4 separate regions of the Homo sapiens genome follow, and regions 2, 3 and 4 are each linked to region 1. Evidence: fine-mapped expression QTL. A gene starts in region 1. Each other region holds a variant in brackets. All regions are shown on one strand. Distances are between the middles of the regions.

Region 1 (4,160 bases):
GAATCTGGCAGTGCCTTTCCCTCCACCTTCCTCTGCAGGGTTCCCAGGGAGATGTTAGGGTTTTCCTTCTGGGCTTCCTGAGCCTCCATCTCTTCCCCTCCACACCCCTAGGGAGGTGGCTGGATAAGGAAGGAAACTGCCCTCTCTCTCCCCTGCCTCAGCCCAGCCTGAGACTTATTTAGATGTACTGTGTGTGTGTGTGTGCATGCACAGTGCGCATGTAGGGTGTCAGTGTAGCATTGTAGCTGGTGTGTGGTGGTGCGGTATATATGCGGTGTGTTTGGTGTGTATGTGTGTATAGGTATGATGTATATGTATGTGTGGTGTGAGTGTGAGGGTGTGTTGATTGCGTAGTGTGGTATATGTCTGTATGTGTTTGTGGTGTTGGTGATGTGCAGTGTGTGTGAAGTGGGTGGTGTGAGTAAGGGGCCACTGCAATTGGGTGTAGGAGCCAGATATCTAGGTCTCCTAGCCAGGGATAACCAGTATCTAGGCAACCATACTGGGGGGAGGGGAGGAGATATGGAGGTGAGGAATGGGCAGGAGAAAGAGGGAGGCTGAGAAATGGAGGAGTTTCCATGGCAACGACCAGGCAAGTCACGTGCAAAAGGCTAAGTTGCGGACGTAGACATACACATCCATAATATGAGGGTGGCTGGATCCCCAAAGGGGGCTCCTTTCAGAGAGGGCCTGAGATGCCCACTGATCCATCTTCAAAGCTGGAAATCTTAGCCCAGCCAGACAGCACGAAGCCACAGAGACAAAGGAAGTAGTGGCAGAGAGCACACTGGTGGGGAGAAGCCTCCAGTAGCCACGGTCCCGCGAGCGTGCAGGCTTGCAGCAGGTGACGCGGCAGACCCATGTTTCCAGCGAGGCTGCTCCCAGCTCCCACCCTCGGGTGCCTCCTCTACCAGCCACCACTTGTAAGAGCCAGAAGCCAGCGCTGGGAGCTCCAGGCTGCACACCCAACTCTCCACGGAAGCCCGGGAGACACAATAGGGGAGGCTCTGCCAGGGCCAGCCCTGCTGGGGAAAGGGGGCAATGGCGGACCCCAGGGCCCCCCGGAAAGGAAACAGGATTGGATGGATAAGACAAGAAGGAGGGAAAAAATGATGCACTCTCATGAATCCCCGAGCGCTAGAATCCTTCTTTCCCTGCGCCCCCATCCTGTGCCCACTGCCCAGCCCCACCTTCCCCAAGCACCAAACCAGCAAGTTCCATTTTGTGTCGCTCATAAGTCCACACTCACACCCAGCCACACGCCCTCGTCCGTAATTCCCCACGCTCCACCAAGTGTCCACAGCTTCCAAGTAACAAAGGGAAAACTCCTCATGGATAAAGGGTGGGCGCAGCCCTTTCCCCTTCTCCTGAAAACCCTGACCCCAAGCTCAAGGCAGCACCGAGAGCAATTCCCAGCCACCAGCGTCACCCCCAGCGCCACAGCCTGCCTCCCCTAGAGGCTCCTCTCTCTTCCGACGCCGATCTCCTTGTTTACATCCCCAGCCCGGTTTCCCGCTGCCCAGGCGGGGACCGCGGCGCAGCTGACCGCGGAGGACCGCACACACCCACTGAACACACAAAACCCGGCGCTCCCGGCGCTCCAGAGATCGGTCCCCACCGAGCCTCGCCCCTCCTCGGAAAAAGGAGCCAACTTTGCCCACCTCCCCAGCCGCCTACCTGCACAGCCGGTCCCCTCCGAGACTCCCAGGAGGACCCGCCGAGTCCCGAGGAGCCTGGGAGTGGCGGGGCTGGGGGCAGGGCGGTGGGTGAGGCTTGAGCTGCTTTCCCGCCTCCCCTCCTCCTAGGAGTCGGGCTGGCTGGGAGGCGCGTCCTGCGGGGGCGGGGGGGGGGCTCGCTCGGGGCTGGGCTCGGGGACAGCCCACTCCGTGCTGCCGTCCGCTGGCTTCTGGGTAGCGGCCGCGCGCAGACCCCCTCTCCTCCTCTCCCTGTCCGTCCTCCCGCTCTGTGCTCGCGCGCGTCCTCTGCTCCTCTCTCCTCTCGAGGGGCGGAGAGATTTTTCCAAAGGGCAGTCAAGCTCCGAGAAGCAACAGGAGACTGCCGCCGAGGAGGCGTGCAAGCGCCGGAGCGGATTTGCCATCAGCTGTTGCTTTTCGGTTTCCCTCTGGTTAGGGTGGGAAGGGAGCAAGACAGGCACAATGACAGACCTGGTGTCTCTCTGCAATAGTAAACCCCGAGGAACGGAAAAATAGGAGAAAATAACCCAGCACCAGACACAGCAGCCCACGTTAATTGGGAGCCTTGGTAATTAAGGGGAATGTGCACCAAAAGCATGAATGGCTGTGTCGTGGGCGCAGGAGCCAGCTCCAGTTGTAGTTGTCATTTTCAGCTAGAGCCAGGTGGGGAGCTGGGGGGATGGTCCTTACCTGAACCATAGATCTGCTGCCTTGAACCCCCTTTTCAAGCCCCATCCACCTCTGGCCCTGCCAGGAGCAGTACCACCCCGTCCTCAGCCCAGTCCCCAAGAGTCAAAATTCATGATGACGAACTTTGAATGTGAAGATGTAAATAAATCCTGGCTCGGCAACCCTGCCTGTGACGCGACTTGGAGCATATCTCTGCACTCAGCTCCTGAGTCTATTTCCTCACGTGGGAAAATGGTGATTAGAGACTGACCCCATGGGAGGCTTAGCTCATAGTGAGTGCTCAAGAAATTGGCTCTTACTATTAGGGGCAGAGCTTGTAGGAAGGGGCAGAGGCCAGGCACAAGTGTCAGTAGCCAGGAGCCATGCTGAGATGGAGGCTGTCCAGCCTCAGTCAAGGTGTGTGTATGGCCGAGCCGGGTGGAGGGAGGAGCTACTGAGAAAGGCTGTGATTGTCCAAGCCTAGGTAGGGCCACGGAGAGTTCCTTACAAACCCCAAGCCGGGGATGATGGGTACTGCTAGGAAGAAACCTAGCCCTGCCTCTGCTGCCCTCAGTTCTGGGCCTGTTTTCTCATTTGGGAAAATAGGGAGATGGACTAGATGATCCTGAGGTCTCTTCCAGCTCTGCCCTAGATGATCTAATTATTTTAATAAAAGGTCAGGTCTCAAAACCCCAAGGCAGGAAATATACATGAACTCAAGAAGACTTTGGAACCAGTAGGGGAACCATAAATAGCTACTGAGAAAGAGCACCCAAAAAGCCTCCCCTCAGGGGATAGTTCTGGCCCCTTAATCATGGGACCTGGCTGAATGGATGCCACTCTGGCCCAGTCCTGAACTCCCTGGGGTTCCTGTGAATGCTAAAGCTCCTTCTCCAAAGCCAGACTCAAATCTTGCCTATTTGCGTGCCTAACCCTTTGCCGTTCCTGTCTTTTCCTCTATAAACTGAGGACAGCATTCCAACTGTCGTTTTCCCTTTTCATGTATTCTAGGTGGCAGATTTAAAACCACATCCCTTTCTAGGCCCATGTCCTTAGGCAGGTACATTCATCCCTCCAAATGCCCTTGAATCCTGCCTTTTGGCCATCTCTCTGTGCTTTTTAGAGCACCTACTAGTGATGACACGTCAAGCCCAGGCTTTGCAAGCCTATTTGGGAAAGGATAGTTCAGAACTCCAAAGCCAAGCCACCTTCTGGTTCAACCCCATTTCCAGCCAGAGAGTTCTGAAGTGTTTGGCCCAGTGACTTCCCAGGTCCCCCTACCTAATGCTGACCAGCCCAGGCTGCAGAGGGATAACAGGAACTAAATGTGCATGAGAAACCGCCATGGCTTAACTCTCAAATAGTGCTTCATCACGTTCCATCCAAGGGTACTGCTGGAAGAATTTGGGGTGTTACAGCTACAAAGCAGCACGCAAGCTTGTTCTGGGGTGAGTCACATCTCCCTTCTAGCAGGAAAATAAACACATCTACCCCCTGTGAAAAATGTGGGCATTCATAAAAAGAGGTCGCCAGCTGTTCCATTCTTTCAACCACGTATGGACAGGAGGAGCTACTCTTCACTGAGACCTGGGCCAAGATCTGAGGATATACTGTGGAGAGGAAAGATGTGGTCCCTGGGTGAGATAGAGATTTAGCAAATGTTCCCATGAATAAACGTGTAATTAAAACACAGTTCAGAGCCCTGAAGATATAGCATTTGAGAAAGGTCAGGAGATGTTAAGAAGATGAGGTAAAGGAGCCAAGAATTGGGATGTCAGGGTGGGAAGATGATTCTGC
Region 2 (4,160 bases), 65 kb before region 1:
AATCTTGGCGCCACACTTCAATCTCTCCCTTCTCTTAATTTCAATTCCTTTCATTTTCTGATAGAGACAAAGGAGACACGTGGACCCAAAACTCCGTGGACCCAAACTCCGTGGACCCAAAACTCCGTGGACTCAAAACTCCAGCGCCCTCTGGGGGAGGGGCAAGTACCCCTCAACCCCTTCTCCTTCACCCTTAGTGGCAAGTCCCGCTTTTCTAGGGGGCAAGAACCCCCAATCCCTTATTTCCGCACCCCGACCTCTTATCTCTGTGTCCCAATCCCTTATTTCCGCACCCCGACCTCTTATCTCTGTGCCCCAATCCCTTATTTCCGTGCCCCAACCCTTTCTCTGCTTTTCTGGAGGGCAAGAAACCCCCACCCCCTTCTCCGTATCTCTACTCTTTTCTCTAGGCTTGCCTCCTTCACTATGGGCAAGCTTCCACCTTCCATTCCTCCTTCTTCTCCCTTAGCCTGTATCCTTAAGAACTTAAAACCTCTTCAACTCTCACCTGACCTAAAATCAAAGTGTCTTATTTTCTTCTGCAATGCCGCTTGACCCCAATACAAACTCGACAGTAGTTCCAAATAGCCGGAAAACAGCTCTTTCAATTTTTCCATCCTACAAGAGCTAAATAATTCTTGTCGTAAAATGGGCAAATGATCTGAGGTGCCTGACGTCCACGCATTCTTTTACACATCAGTCCCTTCCTAGTCTCTGTGCCCAGTGCAACTCGTCCCAAATCTTCCTTCTTTCCCTCCCGCCTGTCCCCTCAGTCCCAACCCCAAGCGTCGCTGAGTCTTTCTAATCTTCCTTTTCTACAGACCCATCTGACCTCTCCCCTCCTCGCCAGACCAAGCTAGGTCCCATTTCTTCCTCAGCCTCCGCTCCTCCACCCTGTAATCTTTTTATCGCCTCTCCTCCTCACACCCGGTCTGACTTACAGTTTCGTTCTGTGACTAGCCCTCCCCCACCTGCCCAGCAATTTACTCTTAAAAAGGTGGCTGGAGCTAAAGGCATAGTCAAGGTTAATGCTCCTTTTTCTTTATCCCAAATCAGATAGCGTTTAGGCTCTTTTTCATCAAATATAAAACCCCAGCCGAGTTCATGGCTCGTTCGGCAGCAACCCTGAGAAGCTTTACAGCCCTAGACCCTAAAAGGTCAAAAGGCCATCTTATTCTCAATATACATTTTATTACCCAATCTGCTCCCGACATTAAATAAAACTCCAAAAATTAGAATCTGGCCCTCAAACCCCACAACAGGACTTAATTAACCTCACCTTCAAGGTGTACAATAATAAAAAAAGTTGCAATTCCTTACCTCCACTGTGAGACAAACCCCAGCTACATCTCCAGCACACAAGAACTTCCAAACGCCTGAACTGCAGCGGCCAGGCGTTCCTCCAGAACCTCCTCCCCCAGGAGCTTACTACAAGTGCTAGAAATCTGGACACCAGGCCAAGGAATGCCTGCAGCCCAGGATTCCTCCTAAGCCGTGTCCCATCTGCGCGGGACCCCACTGGAAATCGGACTGTTCAACTCACCTGGCAGCCACTCCCAGAGCCCCTGGAACTCTGGCCCAAGGCTCCCTGACTGACTCCTTCTCGGCTTAGCAGCTGAAGACTGAGGCTGCCTGATTGCCTTGGAAGCCCCGTAGACCATCGCGGATGCCGAGCTTTAAGTAACTCTCACAGTGGAGTGTAAGTCCATCCCCTTCTTAATCAATACGGAGGCTACCCACTCCACATTACCTTCTTTTCAAAGGCCTGTTTCCCTTGCCTCCATAACTGCTGTGCGTATTGACAGCCAGACTTCTAAACCTCTTAAAACTCCCCAACTCTGGTGCCAACTTAGACAACACTCTTTTATGCACTCTTTTTTAGTTATCTCCACCTGCCCAGTTCCCTTATTAGGCCGAGATATTTTAACCAAATTATCTGCTTCCCTGACTATTCCTGGATTACAGCTGCATCTCATTGCTGCCCTTCTTCCCAATCCAAAGCCTCCTTTGCGTCCTCCTCTTGTATTCCCCCACCTTAACCCACAAGAGACCTCTACTCCCTCCTTGGCGACCAATCATGCACCCCTTACCATCTC[A/G]TTAAAACCTAATCACCCTTACCCCACTCAATGCCAATATCCCATCCCACAGCAAGCTTTGAAAGGATTAATGCCTGTTATCACTCGCCTGCTACAGCATGGCCTTTTAAAGCCTATAAACTCTCCTTACAATTCCCCCATTTTACCTGTCCTAAAACCAGACAAGCCTTACAAGTTAGTTCAGGATCTATGCCTTATCAACCAAATTGTTTTGCCTATCCACCCCATGGTGCCAAACCCATATACTCTCCTATCCGCAATACCTCCCTCCACAATCCATTATTCTGTTCTGGATCTCAAACGTGCTTTCTTTACTATTCCTTTGCACCCGTCATCCCAGCCTCTCTTCGCTTCACTTGGACTGACCCTGACACCCATCAGGCTCAGCAAATTACCTGGGCTGTACTGCCACAAGGCTTCACAGACAGCCCCCATTACTTCAGTCAAGCCCAAATTTCATCCTCATCTGTTACCTATCTCGGCATAATTCTCGTAAAAACACACGTGCTCTTCCTGCTGATCGTGTCCGACTAATCTCCCAAACCTCAATCCTTTACAAAACAACAACTCCTTTCCTTCCTAGGCATGGTTAGTGCAGTCAAAATTCTTACACAAGAGCCAGGACCGCACACTGTAGCCTTTCTGTGCAAACAACTTGACCTTACTGTTTTAGCCTAGCCCTCATGTCTGCGTGCAGCGGCTGCCACTGCTTTAATACTTTTAGAGGCCTTTCCTACAAGGTCTGAGAAGGCCACCACAGTCATTTCTTCCCTTCTGTCAGACATAATTCCTCAGTTTAGCCTTCCCACCTCTATACAGTCTGATAACAGACCAGCCTTTATTAGTCAAATCAGCCAAGCATTTTTTCAGGCTCTTAGTATTCAGTGACAGACTAATGGTCTATTAAAAACACACCTCACCAAGCTCAGCCACCAACTTAAAAAGGACTGGACAATACTTTTACCACTTTCCCTTCTCAGAAGTCAGACATGTCCTCAGAATGCTACAAGGTACAGCCCATTTAACCTCCTGTATAGATGCTCCTTTTTATTAGGCCCCAGTCTCATTCCAGACACCAGACCAACTTCGACTGTGCCCCAAAAAACTTGTCATCCCTACTATCTTCTGTCTAGTCATACTCCTATTCACCGTTCTCAACTACTCATACATGCCCTGCTCTTGTTTACACTGCCGGTTTATACTGTTTCTCCAAGCCATCACAGCTGATATCTCCTCGTGCTATCTCCAAATTGCCACTCTTAACTCTTGAAGTAAATAAATAATCTTTGCTGGCAGGACTATGCTGAATCTCCATAGGCACTCTCTAATTAAATGTCCTAGGTCCTCCCAATTCTTAGACCTTTTATACCTGTTTTTCTCCTTCTCTTATTCCATTTAGTTTTTCAATTCATACAAAACCGTATCCAGGCCATCACCAATCATTCTACATGACAAATGTTTCTTCTAACAACCCCACAATATCACCCCTTACCACAAGACCTCCCTTCAGCTTAATCTCTCCCACTCTAGGTTCCCACGCCACCCCTAATCCCGCTTGAAGCAGCCCGGAGAAACATCGTCCATTCTGTCTCCATACCACTCCCCCAAAATTTTCACCGCCCCAACACTTCAACACTATTTTGTTTTATTTTTCTTATTAATATATGAAGGCAGGAATGTCAGGCCTCTGAGCCCAAGCCAAGCCATCGCATCCCCTGTGACTTGCACCTATACGCCCAGATGGCTTGAAGTAACTGAAGAATCACAAAAGAAGTGAAAAGGCCCTGCCCCGCCTTAACTGATGACATTCCACCATTGTGATTTGTTTCTGCCCCACCTTAACTGAGTGATTAACCCTGTGAATTTCCTTCTCCTGGCTCAGAAGCTCCCCCACTGAGCACCTTGTGACCCCCCTTCCCTGCCCACCAGAGAACAACCCCCTTTGACTGTAATTTTCCATTATCTTCCCAAATCCTATAAAACGGCCCCACCCCTATCTCCCTTCGCTGACTCTCTTTTTGGACTCAGCCCGCCTGCACCCAGGTGAAATAAACAGCCATGTTG
Region 3 (4,160 bases), 41 kb before region 1:
GACATGGAGATCTTCGAAATGGAATGGGGGGTGGAGGGAGTCACTGGGAGGCAAAAGGTGTGGGACACCTGAGGTTACTGAGACAGGGAACTTGGGATTCCCTTCTGGGAAATGACACAGCATGGCAGCTGTCCTTCTTATTCAGTCAAGCTACATTGCCTCATTAAACCAAATCACAGCTACAAACCAGTGCCACATGCCTGGAGGCTGAGTGGACACTCCTGGTCCTCCTCATGGAGATATATAGCACTCTGAGTTCTGATCCAGCTCATCTGTGTGAAGTCCTCAAACAAGCACATAGTAAGTGCTCCATAAACTTCAGCTGCTCATTTTTTTTAATTATTACCATTTTGACCATCATTTCTTCGATTGTTCTTCATGTGTCTTGTTTCCAGACCATTAGACTCCCACAGGAGGCTCCTTGGAGCATGGTCCAGCTAGTTTATGTCTTGAAGGGGCAGCCATGCTCCAGGTGCAGTCTTGGGAGCCATCTGATCACTGTCCCTTCTTCTGAGCATCTGCCTGCTGAAGGAGGCTAGGCCATGTGCTGACAAGCACTATGGACAGACAGCCCGGGGTCAAGTCCTAGCTCCTCCATCCCCCAGCTGTGTAACCTGGACCAGGACGATTGTATCTCTGACCAATCTCAGAATATAGCTGGATTACTAGGAGGAAAACTAAGTGAGTGCTTAGAGGCGGGCAAAGTAAGGATAACCATTTGTAGATGATGTGCTAGAGATGCTGACCATCATTCCTTACTCTTAACATAATTATTATGAGAAAAATTAGAACCTCCTCATTGGACTTCCTTATTCCTATGTCGAAGTATAATGTTCTGTTTTTACTAACGTATGGGGGGCGGCACACACAAAGCTTTGCATGTCTAGGGCCTCTAGGGATCTCAGCCTGGCCTCGCTATGAAATTTCTGCAAGGCCTGTCAATTCCCTGATGTATCACGAGTGTTCCCGAACAATAAGCTCATTTACCAGGTCTTGCTGTGACCAGATAGTTTTTAATCGCCATGATCACTGGGTTGACAGGTTGAGCTTGAGCTCTACCATAAGCCTGTGTCTTTCCAAAGGCCTGGGGGACCGAAGGCAGAAGCAAGAGCACACGTAGAGAAGGCACCGAGCAAGCGGATCTGTGCGGTTCTTCGGTTCTAAACAACTTGCGGAATCCAGGCGGACTCAGGGCCTGTGTGGCCACTGGGCAGGGAAGGTGGTGGTTCCCAGGCCCATCGAAACCACAAGGAGCACTGACTTCTGTCTCCTGCTATAGCTTCAGGTGCCAGGTTCACTGGGGTCTTAGAAGTTGGGGCTGGAAGGAGGTGGGCCCAGAGGGTCCCGCTCCTTAAGTGCTGGCTTCAAGATGGAAGATATTAAGACGTTCCAGGGGTCGATTCTTTTTTCAAGACCCTAAGATGTTCCAGGCTTCTGTAGAGCAGGCACAGTCCTTGCCCTCCAGGAATTGTATCAATAAAGACACAAAACACTAGAGGCAGAAGCTGCACACAGGCAACCTCCACGCAGAATCTGCCCACATCTGTGTTGGTTTGGCCAACAGTGGTTTTTAGAAAGTTGAGTCAGAGTGTCTTTGGGAGGACACCGTAGGTGACTGCAGGTGCCATGCCCCATCGTCACTCCAGCAGATTCACATATTGGCATTACCTGCCTGGTCTCTACAGTCTGGATGCCAAGTATGAAGTGTGAATATAAAGGCAGCAAACAAGTGTGATTGGGGCACAAGAAAGGGATTCGGCTGGGCGCTGTGGCTCACGCCTCTAATCCCAACAATTTGGGAGGCTGAGGCAGGCAGATCACTTGAGGCCAAAAGTTCGAGACCAGCTTGGACAACATGAAGAAATCCCGTCTCTACTAAAAATATAAAAATTAGCCGGGTATGGTGGAAGGCACCTGTAATCTCAGCTGCTCAGGAGGCTGAGGCAGGAGAATCGCTTGAACTCAGAAGGCAGAGGTTGCAGTGGGCCAAGATAACGCCACTGCACTCCAGCCTGGGCGACAAGAGCAAAACTCCATCTCAAAAAAAAAAAAAAAAAAAAAAAGGGATTCGATTCTACCTAATGCCCAGGGAGGCTCCACAGAGGAGGGGTATTTCACAATCCACGTCACCCAC[C/G]CTGTCACTCCCTTGATCCCTTCCTTCCTTTTTTCTTTTTAGAGACAAGGTCTCATTCTGTTGCCCAGGCTGGAGTGCAGTGGTGCAATCACGGTTCACTGCAACCTGGAACTCCAGGGTTCAAGCAATCCTCCTGCCTCAGCCTGCCGAGTAGCTGTGACAACAGGTGCGAGCCACCATGCCCAGCTAAGATTTCACCATGTTGCCCAGCTGGTCTTGAACTCCTGGCCTCAAGCAATTCTCCTGCTTTAGGCTCCCAAGTTGCTGGAATTACAGGTATGAGTCACCACCCCTGGCTCTCTTTACAAGTCCTTAGGTAGTGGCCCCAGAACTGACCAAAGAGAAATGTTAGGATGTTTTACTCCAGGCCACTGAGTACTTGGAGAAGCCATTGTGACTCCCTTTTTTGCTCCAAGACAGTGTGCAATGTACAGGTCCTGCTATGGGATGTGGCTTGAGCCCAGTGGCCTGGGAAGGCGGGAGAGAGGGAGGGAGGAATAGAAATGGCGGGAAGGTGCGGGACGAAGGGCTGAGCAGGAGGAGAGGAAAGTGAAGGAAGAAAAGGAAAGGAGGGAAGAGAAGCGGGGAGGAGGCAACAGTGACAGCAGCTGACGGGGCTCTGTGCCTGCCTGGGTGGCTATCCAGTCCTTCCTCTTCCCTCTGACCATGGACGGACTCCCTCTAGCCCTTTAAGTTCCACAGACCCTACAAACACTCAAGTTCTTTCACAGAAAGGAAAGCACCTCCGAGCCACTAGGAAACAAAGGATATTTTATTCCTTTTTTCTGTTGTTGTTGAGGATAGATCACGATACAGAGAACAGCAATGGGTCACAGCGCACGGTTTGGTTGGTTTCCGCGGGAACACAGAGGACAGGAGGGGCGGGATCTGGGTTGAGTTCCCACTCTCGTTATGACCTTCAACCTCTCACTGTTCCCAAGGGCTGCACGGAGCCTGCTGAGTCTCCAACCCACCTCGCTCACCGCTCTGACCACTGACAGGCAGAGCAAAGGATGCGGGAGTTGCCTCTGCTGCCCATCTAAGGGGACGTAGGCAGAGAAGCAAAGGCCTCTGCTCTCCCTCCATCCATCCCGGTGTGCTGGCCCCAACGGAACAGGAGTCCTTCAACTATTGCCTGCCAGAGACCCAATTGCAGGGACTGTAGTCTGCATCTGGATGAGCTGGGCTGTAGATTGAAGTCTCAGAAGCAGGGAAGGTTGGAAGGGGTAGGGTCCCAGAGCCCATGGAGTTATTGCTGAGAAGATATGCAGGGGACACATTCCCCAGGGGCAGAGTAGAAGCCCTGGGCCTGGAATCCCCGGGCGCTCTGTGAAGGGGCGGGGCAGATGGGGACTCCTCGTGGAAGCCCCTGGGAAGAAATTAACCACGGAAGGGCATAGCCTGCCTGACGTCAACGCTGGGCTCACCAGCTCCTTGCTTTGTATCTCCAGTTGCTAAGAGACCTTCAGACTGGGATCAGGTGGGATAAGGAAGCAAGGTTTTTGTTAAAGGAGTGAAAGGAGTCCATGAAGAATGATGACAAAGTGCTGCAAACCTTCCCAGGTCCCAAGACGACTGAAGACCACTGCCCGTGCTCTTACCCTACGCATCCCTAAATCAGGGGAGGGGGCTGGTCTCGGGCAACAAGCAGCCTCCTAGGAGCAGAAGGTGATGGAGGGCCACGGGGGCAGGGAGGAGCAGATGGCCATGTGGCTCAGCCCCTGCCTGGGAAAGCGAGTCCACAGTTCACTAACAAACACAATACCATCCACAAACAAGTAGCCACAAAGACCACAGTTAGCAAACACACACAGTCACACACACACACACACACACACACATCACGGGAGGTGGGCAGGACCGCAGGCTGCAGTGGGGAGGCAAGTGTTAGTTGCATCATCAGGTGGAGGAATGGTGTTAGAGGGGATAGGGTGGGGGACACACAAGTTCTTGGCTTCTCCTGGGGAAAGGGCTGTTGCTGAAGTGGCCGGTTTTCTTAAGCATCGACATTTGCATCCAAAGGTTC
Region 4 (4,160 bases), 34 kb before region 1:
AGTAAACTAATGGGGTATGACCTCTATGTGGGAGTAGAAAGAAGGTCCAAGTGTCTATTCAGCTCAAAGAGCCTCATGAACAGGTGACAAGTGGGGACTGTGTCGCAGGTCCTGTAGAGAGGACCTGGGCATCTAGAGAGGCCAGGAAGCCCTCTGCTTCCCTTCTCCCAAGCTCAACTGTCCCAAGGGCCTCCAGAAAAGGTTCCAGTACTTTCTTGTCCACTCCCCGTCCCCCACATAGATCAGAAGAGACAGGATGGGCTGACCTTCAATGTTTTGACCTCTCCTTTGCCCCAGAGTCTACCTGGCAGTCCTCAAACTTCCAGCCCTACGTCCCAACACACACGTTCTGCCTCCGAGACAAGAATCCAAGAGAATGCCCATTTGGGGGTCACACACCAGGGGTCCCTTCCTGTCCCACCTAGTATCACCCCCCCAAGGCCACTGCCACGGCATCCTTACCGGGGCTTCTGATTGAAACTGCACTTGCACCTGCGACCTGAAAAGCAAAGAAACCATCCAAGGTCATGCTGCTGGCTTGGCCACAGCAGGGCCAAGGGTCTGTGCAGGTTGTGGGACTATGTAAATGGCACCCCCTAGACCTGGGCAGTGCACAGTTTGCACAGCTGCACACAGTGGCCCTCGGATGGGGTAGCTTCTTCTGGGGCAAAGGAAATACATTCTATAGCTGGAATGGCTACACCCCCACAGCCCTCTTGATCATGTGAGTAAAGAGGGATCTGTGCAGATCAGGCTCATGTGGGAACAACAAACTCGGAGGCACATCCCTCGCACACTAGGGCAGCACCTGTCTCCTTCCTCCGTGACTGCCCCATTCATGCCCTATAGACACAGCACTGGGAAGCCACCCTGCTCGTTCCTATCTATGCTCATTGTCATATGACATTTTCTTTGTTCCCGTGTCACTGTTTTACTGAGCACTTACTATGTGCCCAGCACTCTACTGGGTCGTGAAGATAACACGGAGGGCAGGCAGCCTCCTTTCCTCTCCAGGAGAGGGACCAACCAGGCTCTCACACTGTCCCCACCTGCTTAGCAGCCTCAGTCATTGCTCTTAACAGAGTGAGCAAAAGAACAAACTTACTTAGGATAAGGAGGATCCCAACCGAGAAGAGGACCACAGCGAACACCAGTCCCCCAATCCTCAGGGTCTGGTAATCTGCCAAAGGAACCAAGGGTGAGAGAGGAAGGGGCCAGGGAGAGGGTGTCTGTTCCCCCTACCCCTCCTGCCAGGCAGGGCTGCATTCCCCCTGACCCCTGCACCCAGGGTTGCCATCGCTCACCATAATGAAAAGGGTCCATTTCCTTCTCCTTTTCAGCTGCTGCAAAAACAAACAGTTGGTCAAGAGAAAGAAAGCTACACAAACTGGTTCCCAAATATCTAACCTTGCCTCACAGACCTCAGTCTCCACAAAGGAATTCCAGAGGAGCAGGGCCCATTAAACAGAGATGCCTAGAGGTGCACGGTAGGGCGGGCCTGCCAGTTAGGGGGTTAGGGGAACCCTAAGGGCCGAGGTCAGTGAAGGCATCGAAACTCAGTGAGGCTCTGAGTCATGCAACACCCACATTCATTGCCCCTTTGTATTCTTACATCATCCCCAGAAGGCAGGGTCAGTTTTCCTCTTGTGACACACGGAGAAACCGAGACCAAGGAAGGACATATGACTTGCAC[G/A]AGGCCAGCACTTGCTAATATGGTCTAGAGACTGATGTGCAGGTCTGAATCCCAGGGTTCAGGCCACAAATCCACAGAGGCGCAGTGAGCTTGCGGGGCTTAAAAACTACTCCCTGCCGGACCCTTAGGGGGCGAGGGGGCAGGCTGTGCTGAGGTCTGTGAATAAATAGCTGCCACCTCCACGACTTTCTCTGCTGACTGAAGGGAGAGGCCCCTGACTAGACATGAAGAACGTGAGAGTCCCCCAGCCCTAATGTCCCAAGGGGCCCAGAACCTTCCAGCAGAGAGGGCTGGACAGGGTTGTCATCTTGTCACAGCCAGGTCCCAGAGGGGTACTTACCACTGGCCAGGACCATGGGGGCCAGCAGGCTGCAGAGGAAGACCAGCACCAACTCCATGGCGTCTGGGGACAGAGGGAGGAAAAAATGATTCTCTGGCTAAGAAGCCTCCATCCGTCAGCTCCAAGCGTCAGCCTGACCAGGGGCCAAGCCAAATCCCCAGCTTTGCTCTGCACTCATGACTTGGTGAGGGTTCAAACAACCTAAGCACAAGCAGTTGACTTTTTTTTTTTTTGAGACAGAGTCTCGCTATCTTGCCCAGGCTAGAGCGTAGTGGCATGATCTCGGCTCACTGCAACCTCCGCCTCCCAGGTTCAAGTGATTCTTCTGCCTCAGCCTCCTGAGTAGCTGGCATTAGAGGCGTGTGCCATCATGCCCGGCTAATTTTTTGTATTTTTAGTAGAGACAGGGTTTCATCATGTTGGCCAGGCTGGTCTCGAACTCTTGACCTCAAGTGGTCCATCTGCCTCAGCCTCCCAAAGGGCTGGGATTATAGGCGTGAGCCACCACCAGTTGACATTTCTTGGACTCTTAGAGAATGCTCTGCATGTATTAATTCAATTGGCACAATTGAGTTAGTACAATTAGCAAGCACTACAACTAACGCAGGCCGAGAACCTGAAGCTTAATGAGGCTGACATGCACCAGAGTGAGTAGCAGGGCCTAGATCCTAACCCAGCATGGTAACTCCTCCACCACGTTGCCTCTGGGACGTGACTTTGAAGATCTCAACTGTGTCCTTCTCTCCAGGCCACCCTTCTGTGGCCATCCCTAGTTCATTCTGACAGCCAATACCCCATCAGAAATGTCTCTTAATATCAGACTAAATGGGGCCAGTAAACCAGTGTCCCTCTAGTCTAGCCAGCTGGGTGGAGAGGAGACTTGTGGTTTCCTGGGCCCTGAAGCGCTGACAGCCCTCCTTCAGGTACCCTTTACGTCCCACCTCAAAAGTCCCCAAGTCAGCTCTTCCCACAGGCTTTGGTTCAGAATCCTCCAGAAAGGTGGTTTGATTCTACAAAAGGAGTTTGAAGGCTGGTTCCACGAGCCTCAGCACCCCAGCCTCTGCTTCCCCAGAGGATGCGGAGGTCTCTGCTCAGGAGCTCATCAGTCCTGGTCTCTGGGTGGATGGCCCCAGGTGGGCTATCCTGGTGGAAGCAGGAGGCAGGGCCAAGAGGTGGCACCCAGGGATAGATTTCAATGGCAGGACACACATCTCACTCCTGGGCTTAAAGGAGCATGGTTAAGAGCCAGAGAGGAGACAGAGAGGCTTTTCCTGAACCAGGAAAGCCCAAGGCTGGGTGCTGTTTTCCATGTGGGGTGAAACTGGCAGTGGCCTGAACCCCTGGACATCCGTCCAGTCCAAGACCCTGATTGCCCCCAGCACGGTCACTACCTTCCTCCGGCCTTGAGCAAGCAGCCGCCACTGCACTTCACCTCTCGGCCACCAGGGGTCAGAACGACTGCATCCACAGCCACGTCAAGGCCCAAACCTTGATTCAAAAAGCCTTTATCAAAAGGTGGTAATTTGCTTTCAATGCTGTCTCATTTCACACTTGTATTTCCTTTGAATGCTACACTGTATCTTATATGTATAAAAATATATGTAACATACACATATAATGAGGCATAGTAATAATAGAAACACCCATAAACCAGCAGCTTAGGAAATGGAGCTTTACAAAGACTGCTGCAGTGACCTCTATTTCCCTCCACCCCATCCCCCTGCCTCTCTCCCAGAGGTGGCCAGTATCCCAAAAATATATATTTTTATTTTTATTTATTTATTTATTTATTTTGAGACTGAGTCTCCCTGTGTCGCCCAGGCTAGAATGCAATGGTGCGATCTCGGCTCACTGCAACTTCCACCTCCCGGGTTCAAACGATTCTCCTGCTTCTGCCTCCCAAGGAGTTTGGATTACAGGCATGCACCACCACACCCAGCTAATTTTTTGTATTTTTAGTAGAGACAGGGTTTCACCATGTTGGTCAGGCTCAAACTTCTGACCTCAGGTGATCCACCCACCTCGGCCTCCCAGAGCGCTGGAATTACAGGCGTGAGCCACCGCGCCTGGCTGAAAATACATATTTTTAATCATTCCCTTGCTCTTCTTCTAAAAAGCTGCCAATCA

The links. PIP is the estimated chance that this variant, and not a neighbour inherited with it, causes the effect.
Region 2: its variant is fine-mapped to the expression of FXYD6 in whole blood (INTERVAL, PIP 0.97).
Region 3: its variant is fine-mapped to the expression of FXYD6 in whole blood (INTERVAL, PIP above 0.99). The same link has a PIP of 0.9 or more in blood mononuclear cells and monocytes.
Region 4: its variant is fine-mapped to the expression of FXYD6 in whole blood (TOPMed, PIP above 0.99).

The regions. Positions count from the first base shown.
Region 1 is chr11:117,874,915-117,879,074 of GRCh38, forward strand. FXYD6 (FXYD domain containing ion transport regulator 6) reads right to left here and starts at 1,744. Exons shown (of 8, transcript NM_022003.4): 1 at 1,678-1,744. It overlaps FXYD6-FXYD2 (FXYD6-FXYD2 readthrough), which reads right to left and starts at 1,744. Exons shown (of 10, transcript NM_001243598.4): 1 at 1,678-1,744.
Region 2 is chr11:117,810,124-117,814,283 of GRCh38, forward strand. It overlaps a transcript of DSCAML1 not described here. Among named protein-coding and RNA genes, the nearest start is that of FXYD2, 13 kb to the right of the region's middle. RefSeq lists an enhancer at 3,687-4,160. The variant A/G (reference allele first, on the strand shown) is at 2,097.
Region 3 is chr11:117,834,093-117,838,252 of GRCh38, forward strand. The region is part of intron 6 of FXYD6-FXYD2 (FXYD6-FXYD2 readthrough); the gene reads right to left. It overlaps FXYD6 (FXYD domain containing ion transport regulator 6), which reads right to left. Exons shown (of 8, transcript NM_022003.4): 8 at 2,889-4,160. It overlaps FXYD6-AS1 (FXYD6 antisense RNA 1), which reads left to right. Exons shown (of 3, transcript NR_186291.1): 2 at 2,177-2,410; 3 at 3,076-4,160. Among named protein-coding and RNA genes, the nearest start is that of FXYD6-AS1, 2.5 kb to the left of the region's middle. The variant C/G (reference allele first, on the strand shown) is at 2,135.
Region 4 is chr11:117,840,686-117,844,845 of GRCh38, forward strand. FXYD6-FXYD2 (FXYD6-FXYD2 readthrough) reads right to left here. Exons shown (of 10, transcript NM_001243598.4): 2 at 2,034-2,096; 3 at 1,305-1,343; 4 at 1,106-1,180. The coding sequence starts at 2,091. It overlaps FXYD6 (FXYD domain containing ion transport regulator 6), which reads right to left. Exons shown (of 8, transcript NM_022003.4): 2 at 2,034-2,096; 3 at 1,305-1,343; 4 at 1,106-1,180; 5 at 463-499. The coding sequence starts at 2,091. Among named protein-coding and RNA genes, the nearest start is that of FXYD6-AS1, 9.0 kb to the left of the region's middle. RefSeq lists an enhancer at 1,027-2,226. The variant G/A (reference allele first, on the strand shown) is at 1,694.